Regions from separate parts of the Homo sapiens genome. Here region 2 is linked to region 1. Evidence: fine-mapped expression QTL. A gene starts in region 1. The other region holds a variant in brackets. All regions are shown on one strand. Distances are from middle to middle.

Evidence for each region. PIP is the estimated chance that this variant, and not a neighbour inherited with it, causes the effect.
Region 2: its variant is the best candidate, but not a certain one, in a credible set for the expression of LINC01215 in whole blood (TOPMed, PIP 0.56).

Annotation. Positions count from the first base shown.
Region 1 is chr3:108,123,481-108,127,720 of GRCh38, forward strand. LINC01215 (long intergenic non-protein coding RNA 1215) reads left to right here and starts at 1,584. Exons shown (of 2, transcript NR_110030.1): 1 at 1,584-1,662. RefSeq lists enhancers at 767-1,026, 821-1,321, 1,107-1,156, 1,227-1,366, 1,647-1,696 and 2 more.
Region 2 is chr3:108,116,900-108,121,439 of GRCh38, forward strand. It overlaps LOC105374031 (a long non-coding RNA gene), which reads left to right. Exons shown (of 8, transcript XR_007095997.1): 5 at 583-1,271; 6 at 3,445-3,544; 7 at 3,961-4,207. Among named protein-coding and RNA genes, the nearest start is that of LINC01215, 5.9 kb to the right of the region's middle. The variant G/T (reference allele first, on the strand shown) is at 2,385.

The DNA.
Region 1 (4,240 bases):
TAGCTGTAAATAAAAGTCTTATTGTTTGGTTCTTGGTCTTTCCCCCCTCTCAGTGACAGGAAGAATAATAAAAGCAATGGCACTATTGTGTGAAATAAGTGTTTTCTCATCCAAAAGAAAACATGACATATACAATAGCAAACCATTTGCAAGCTGAAAAAGTAATTAATTGTATAATTCACTGAACATGATAGGAAAAGTGAATTATGATAAAGGAGAAGGACTGAGAGTTAACAAATGAAAATTTTATTTAAAAGTTTTAAAATTTTGTTTTTTTTAAAAAAGGAGAGCATTGAAAGGTGATTAATCTACAGAAACAAAGAACTATTTCAAACACATTTAAAAAGGCACAATTAGAAGAATACCGCAAAAATAAAAAGAAAAATTCAGTTTGATCTGAGGGGGAAAAGAAAAAGCTGTTTTCATGAAAAACAGATTTTGAAGTACTTTTGTCATCAGCTTCCTTTCAATTCTTCTGGTTAATTTCATGAAGGCTGTGCGACCTTTCAACTTCCAAATGTTTGCAGGAGGGAAGGGTGGTAACGTGTGAGTGGAAAAACAATTAATTTTCAAGGTATGGGATTTTATAGTAGAGACTTCCTTAGCAGGATGGACCGTGACAGGGTGTTAGTGATGGAGACCTTAGGAGGAGAGGGCAGAAGATATGGGTTTGAGGTCCTGATGTACTCTGCCTGCTGTGTGATCTTGGACAAGTTCCGACCCCTCTCAGGGGTTCAACATCTTCCTACCTACATGAAGTGATGGGATCAAACACCTCTGTGGCCCTCTCTAGTCTATATGTTTGCATTTCTAACTGTAGAGCATGATAAAAAAATAAATCAGAAGTCAGTGATCTTTAGGTTACTAGTCAGGATGAAACTCAAAAGATCTATTTTTAAAATTATGAGTATTGGGTGTGGTGAAAATATTCATATTTGGGGTCAGAGAGTTTTTCTAATAGAATCAATTCTAGAGCATTCAGACTTGCTCTCACCCCAAAGAGGAAGTGAATGAAAGCTCTTCTTTCTCCTCTGCTGCTTTCTTTGTCCATGGGAGTATGCAAATTTTTCTGGCAACACAGAAGACTGAACACAGGAAGCCTGAACCCCGTGAAGCCATAAGGCTTAGCATGGGTGTGGAGGGTGATCAACCCCTCATCTGTCATTCAGAACTCCATGCTGCAACACAGAGGGGAAAAAAAACCTTCTGCTCCCTGTTTCAACCTCAAGGGCAGAGAACACAGGCCGAGTTGCTGTTCTTGTCTCACAATCTGGAGGCCAGAAGTCTGAAATCAAGGTGTCGGCAGGATTGGCTCCTTCTGGGAGCTGCGAGGGAAGTATCTGTTCCAGGCCTCTCTCCTTGGCTTACAGATGGCTGTTGATATGGTTTGGCTGTGTCCTCACCCAAACCCCATCTTGAATTGTAGTTCCCATAATCTCCACGTGTCATGGAAGGGACCCGGGGGAGGTAATTGAATCATGGGGGCAGTTACCTTCACGCTGTTCTCGTGAAAGTGAGTGAGTTCTCAGGAGATCTGATAAGGGGACTTTCCTCATTTTACTCACTCAGTTCTCTTCCTGCCACCACTTGAAGAAGGACGTGTTTGCTTCCCCTTCTGCCGTGATTCTAAGTTTCCTGAGGCCTCCCCAGCCATGCTGAACTGTGAGTTAATTAAACCTCTTGCCTTTATAAATTACCCAGTCTTGGGTATGTCCTTATAGCAGCATGAGAATGGAAATACAGCCATCTTCTCCATGTGTCTCTTTACATTGTCTTCCCTCTGTAAGCGTTCGTTTCTGTTATAAGACACTAGTCTTATTGGATTAGAGACTGTAATGACCTCATTTAAATTTGATTACCTCAGTAAACACACTATCTCCAAATAAGGTCACATTCTGAAATATTCAGGGTTAGGACTCCAGTAATATCTTTTTGTGGGGAGACACACTTCAATCCATAACATACTATAAGAGAAGGGAGCGCTTACCACTGTCCATTACCTGGAACCAGTTCAGACAACCATCATCTTTCTACATGCGATGGAGAAAACAGTTCACCTGGGCATTTTTGCTATGACAGGAGGAAACGTCAATATCAAACCATTGGAGAAGGTAGCTGAGTCATTCATTTGTGGCAGCAACCATCTTTCCTTCCCGCACCCCCTGGCTAGGCTGCTCCATGTTGGGAGGTGGTGTGTTCAGTACAGCCACAGTGAGCTAAGTGAGGGCTTCAGCTGCAGGCTGGAGTGACCCAGGGAGGAACTGCCGCCTATCAAAAGGAAACACCTGCCACAGAAGGTTCACTGAAGCCTGAGAAAATAAACGTCAAGAGCTCTGGGCTGTGCCACCACCAGTCTCCACCACTATTCTGAGGCAGAATGCACCTATTGGCTCACAATGCTGTGAAAGAAAACAAGAAAGTCGTGATGGTGAGCGCTGCCCTGCAGAGATAATGAGCCACTAGAGTAGTTCTGAGGCAGGAGCCAGAGGAGCTGTGACACAGAGGCAGTCAGGGAGTGGGACTGGGGTCACAGGAGGGGCTGGACCCAGTGGTCTAGTGCCTCATCTCATTCCAGATATGTGACCTAAGATCTGCATGTGTGTGCCTGTGCATGTGTGTGCCTATGTGTATGTGGATATGTGGCAACATATATGTGCATGCATGTAAGTGAGTACACATGCATGTGCATGTGGTGGGGTGTGGGTGACTGGATAGAGGGAGCATGGGGAAAGGGAGGGAAAAGAGGGTTAAAACCGTGACAGGATAATAAGCATCTGAAATACTTAACTACAACAAAATGTTCTGAGGCTTTGTACAGCCTTATTTTCCAAACTGCAGGTTGTGGCTCAGCAGTCAGCTGGGAAATCAATTTACCCATGCAGAGATTCTTAACCTGGGTCTGTGGACACTGCCCTTTCCCCACAAGAGGCCCAAGGATAGAATTGTATTTCAATATCATTGATTTCCTTTGTAAGCCTAAGAGTTTTGCTTTATGCATTTAAAAACACTACAAGAAAGGATCCATAGGCTTCATCACATGGGGTAGAAATGGCACGTGCACACATGCATACACACACACACATACACACAAACAGATACACACACACACACAAACACATATACACACACACACAAGGTTAAAAATCTCTAGGTCAAAACCAGCATTTTAAAAAGTTATTAAGATAACTAGATTATAAAGAAATTAAAAAATTTGAGCTATGCATGTAATGAGGGTACTGTTTTGTGAAACTGGTTTTAGATATACAAATACTTGTGTATATAAAATATACATATGTATATGTGTGTACATATTTATGCACACACATTTATTTATTTGTTTATTTTGTGATGGAGTCTCGTTCTGTCACCCAGGCTGGAGTGCAGTGGCATGATCTCAGCTCACTGCAACCTGTCTCCCGGGTTCAAGCAATTCTCCTGCCTCAGCCTCCTAAGTAGCTGGAACTACAGGCATGCCACCATACCCAGCTAATTTTTGTATTTTTAGTAGAGACGGGGTTTCACCATGTTGGCCAGGATGGTCTCGATCTCCTGACCTTGTGATCTGCCCGCCTCAGCCTCCCAAAGTGCTGGGATTACAGGTGTGAGCCACCCTGCCTGGCCATTTATTTTTAACTGTAGGGCATAGGGCAAAAAATTGATAGCTAGTGTTCAATAGCCTACTGGACATTAGGGTAAAAGATTTTTTTAAAAAATTTTTAAAAATTATGAGTGAGGAATGTAGTGGGCCATTTGTGTTTCAGAGTGGAGGGCTCTGCTATTAGGCAGACATTTGACTTTTCACTCGGCACATCCACATTCCAGCCAGTCTCCCAGTGAATGGTGATAAGCTGGCCCTGATCATGCCTGTATGGCTACACCCCTCTCTGCCTTGTTGAGGCCTGAGTTAATTTGAAGTGTTGCAGAGACATGTGTTGATTCCTGTGGCTACAAGGCTCCCGGAAGTGTCAGAGGCAGAGGTATTGTTTCCTGGGAGGGGTGTCTTCCTGTGTACCGCTGGTGTACCACTGGTGTATGCCTGCCCAGAAGTTTGTTCTTTCACACCCACAGGGCCACCTGAAGAAACAGAGATAGGGTCTCCCACGGAATGGGGCAGCAAAAGAAGTAAAGCAAAAGTGAAGAAAAGAGAAATAGGGGGCAGCAAGTGTTCAGGAAAAGGGGGGTCAGATAGGAGAGAGAAGCAAAGAGAAAAATCAAAGTGTATAAAGCAAGTGGCGGGACT
Region 2 (4,540 bases), 6.4 kb before region 1:
TCATGGTGCATATATACAAGAATTTCTTCTAGAGAAATTATATATTATATTATATTCTTATTATGTATATTATGTGTGAGTGGCATTGCTGGGTTGAAGTGGATGTACATGTTCAACTTTACAAGCCATTGCTAAATTGTTTTCCTGAATGGCTGTACTAATTACATTCCCAACTGTAGAATATAAGATTCCTGTTGCTTGACTTTCTTGCCAATACTTTGATATTTTCAAGTATTGAAATCTGGTAGCCATTTTTCACCCAGTAGAGTTGCACTCACTTTTAAGGCTTATTGGTACAAGTTCTTAAAGACTGAAAAGGAGTTCTCAGAAACAAATCAAACCCATTTTTATTTGGGCTTCTCATTTCTCCTTGGGGTCAGACACTTAACAAGCTGTTCATAATATGTCATGCTGGGCCTAATGTTCAGCCCTTAGAAGAAAAGGCCATATCAGCTGAGACAAGTGAACAGCAGACAGAGTTAGGAATTAGGAAGCTTGGGCTCTAACCTGTTTCTGTCACTGAAGGTTTGCAGGGCCCACGTATGAGTCATGTCTCTGCTCTGCATCCTATCTGCTCACTAGGCATAACAGAACTGACCTTCCTCCCAGCCCTGTCGTGAGGATGAAATCCTGTGTGGAGCACTTTGAAATCTTTGGATGAAAAGCACGACAGAAGTGCCAAGTATGATTGTTACCCGTGCCAGCCACACTAGAAGACAGCATAAAAATAGGAAGCAAAGAAAATTTCATTTTACAAAAGCTTCAGTGAGAAAATTGGCTGGTCAGAATGTCATTCCCTAGTTTTGGTTCACATACACGTTGTCTTTTATAAAATTAAAGGAAAAAAATAATTGTACACATTTTTGTCTTTGCCGGGAAGAAGCCCTTTGATCATCACCATCCCTGCGACGCCAGGTGAGTCCCTGATGCAGAAGGAAGATCGATACATGAGGAGACCGTGTGGAATCAGTTATTTGTAGTTGCTCCCCAATTTCTGTTTTTCATTGCAAGGAATCGAAGCCATAAAGTCTGAGGGGGTGTTACAGGTTGAGGATTAGGGAGTGTCTAAACCTTGACATCGTCACAACATAGGATCCGAGATACCTCCAGCTAAAACAGAGACTGTGCTTTCAGAACTGGCCCTGCACGCAGCCTCTACTCCAGTGCTCTCAGGTCCTGTCCTTAATAGGAGAACATGAGAGCTGCAGATTTAAAAACCCAAGAGGGAACCTTTGCAACAACCTTTGTTATATTAGGAATCCCAAAATAAGGTGAGTCATGCCCGTTAGTGTGCACCTTCATCCTAAAAATGACTTAGCTGTAGTTTTAATAGCTTATGTCCATCTTGGTATAATGCTGTAAGTGAGTTGTGATGAGCTGTAATCACCTTTGCTTATAAATTTGGTAGACTGTGGAAACAGTTCCAAACCACAGAAGAGACATTTCAAACTCTGAGCTTGCTGCCTGATATGACACACAGAGAATTTAGAATAGGAGTTTTGGATGCTGTTGCCACGTCTTTACAGCCTGTCTTTTATACTGGAGTTTTAAAAAGTCAAAACCCTACAGGGTGGTTTGGTTGCTGCATCCCACTGAGAAGTTGAGAAAGTAAAAGGTAAGGGGGTGTAGCCATGGGCTTGTCAGGGGGACGTGAGTGACACTAGTCCACCCACAGCAACTGTTCCATGAAGTTATGAATCATATTGTACTCGACTTGTAATTTCCACCCAGGAAGGGAAAGCTACTGAGCACTATTGAAATGTTTTGTTCAGAAGTTTCTCAGAGGGAGGGTCTTCATAGTGTTTTATGGAATAATTTGCATTCTAATCGGCATAATTGAATTATTGCCATAGAATTTGCATGGTATGGCTCCAGTAGAAATACTTTCCATTAAGAAATAAATACTCCTTAGAGAGGAAAAAATGTCCATCCACTGTAGTATCCAGTCACATGACAATCTCTATTTATTCCTCTTCATAACCCCATGAGAAGGGTCATCCTCACTGGAGTTTCAATTTCTTAACCGAAGAAATTAGTTGAAAAGTGGAAATCCAACCTGCTGATAGTTTCTTTATCTGTCCACACCTAATAATGAGTTTGACTGATTCTTCTATTTAAATTGACAGATTATTTACACCTCTGTGAATTACAATGTTGCTATGGTCTTTCTTTCCTTTGCATTTGTGTGTGTGTGTGTGTGTGTGTGTGTGTGGTTAGAACGTCTATAGTCAGGCTAAAATTCAGATCCCATCTTTATAATTCTTGTTTGTGTAATATGAATTTATCACAATGGCAGGAGAGTGAATTATCATACAGCCTTGAAATATCACACTGATTAAGACAGCAGAGAGCCATAGGGAAATGATGGCATGTTAAGCGAAAAA[G/T]AGTAGGAAATTATATCTTTGCCATGTTTTCAAGTACTTAAATTGTGCATGTAGAAGCATGGGCTGAAAAAGAAATATGGAAAAAAGAAACAAATGGTTGGTTGAAATTATGGGATTATGAGAGTTCCCTCTCCACCTTTTTATTCTTTTGTTTTCCATTAACACTCTTACAACATTGCTTGTGTAATAAACATGATTGTAAAATTATTCAGCTGGGTGATTAACAATAGCCAAGATATGCAATCTGCTTAAGTGTCCACCAACAGATGAATGGATAAAGAACATGTGGTATATATACACAATGGAATATTATTCAGCCATAAAAAAGAATGAAACCTGTCATTTGCAGTAACATGAATGAGCCTGGGGGGGGCATTATGTTAAATGAAATAAACCAGGCACAGAAAGACAAATAACCGCATTATCTCACTCATATGTGGAATCCAAAAAGTAAAAGGTAAGGGGATGTAGCCATGGGCTTGTCAGGGGGACGTGAGTGACACGAGTCCACCCACAGCAACTGGAAGTTGCTGGAAGTAGAGTAGACTAGTGGTTACCAGAGGCTGGGAAGGGTGGGGTGGGGAATGGGGAGAAGTTGGTGAAAGGGTACAAAGTTACAGTTAGGCAGGAGGAAGTTAGATAAGAGCAAGATAGCAGTTGTGGTCTGGGCATAGTGGCTCACACCTATAATCCTAGAACTTCAGGTGGCTGAGGTGGGCAGATGGCATGAGCCCAGGAGTTTGAGACCAGCCTGGGCAACCTAGCAAAACCCCATCTGTACAAAAATTTAAAAAATTAGCCAAGCATGGTGGCAAGTGCCTGTAGTCCCAACTACTCAGGTGGCTGAGGTGGGAGGATCACCCGAGCCTGGGAAGGTCCAGGCTGCAGTGAGCCATGATCACACACTGTACTCCAGGCTGGGTGACAGGCTTAAACATTTTTGAAACCCCATCTCAAAAAAATAAAAAATAAGAATAGTTACAGTTAGATAAGCTCTAGTGTTCCATTGCACAGTAGGATGACTATCGTTAATAAAAATTTATTGTGTTTTTCAAAGCAGCTAGAAGAGAGGAATTTGAATGTTCTCAACACAAATGATAAATGTTTGAGATGATGGATATGCTAAATACACTTATTTGATCATTAAACATCGTATACAGGTATGGAAATATCACTTGTACCCCATATGTATATATAATTATTATGTATCAATTAAAAATAAAAGAATAAAATTATATTTCAAAAATACTTGGTTACAAGAGAAGATCTATCATAAAATGAATAAAGTTTAATAAATAAAGGACCTGAGTTACAGGTCCTTTCCCATGCACGGCCCCTGTGAGAGCCTGGGTTGCTAAGAGTGATAGAGTTCCAGGTGGAGAGAGGAAGCTGGGTTACAATCAGGAAACATTTCTATGTCAGCATTTTGGGTAAATTGCTTAAAGGGATCTCAGAAGAAAAGGAACTAATTCTCCAGCACTCCTGTAATTTGTCATGATATAATTTCTCATTCTAAGTAAATATTCGCTTTCATGCCTAATTTTGTATTTGCAATTTTGCATTCTTCTTCTTAAAGAGGGCTCCCATAATTGTATAAGCCTCATGCCTCACAAAACCTGAAGGTGCCTTTGGTGAGGAGGATCATCAGAACACCAGCAGAGTACCTCGACGTGTGAAATCTAGCACTGGATTCCATCCCTGACTTTTCCTAAGAATCACTGTGAATGCTCTGGACAAATTGCTGCTGCGCTGGGTGCTCCCTGTGTCATCACACTTCCTAATTGTACTTCTGGGTCCTCTGAAGCTGTTCCCAGTGCTTAATCGTAAGAAAAGAAGCTCCAAATACTAGTTCAGAAACTCAGGTAGAAAGAGACCTTAAATGTCATGTCCAGCCACTCTTCTGATGCTTGAGTCTTCTCTTCAGGAGGCATCTGGGCCTGGGCTTGGACCCCTTGCCTCAGTCAACCCATTAGAAGTGTCTTTCCTTGTCTTGAGTCAAAACCAGTCCACTGCTACTGGCATTGCTCTATACTTCCAGGCTGTACAGAAGATGTCTAACCTTTCAGATGAGAATGGCAGAGGAAAGCAAGAAGAAAGAAACTTTAATTGTTCCTCAACTTCCCAATTAGGCACACCATTAGGGGTTTTTAATATGG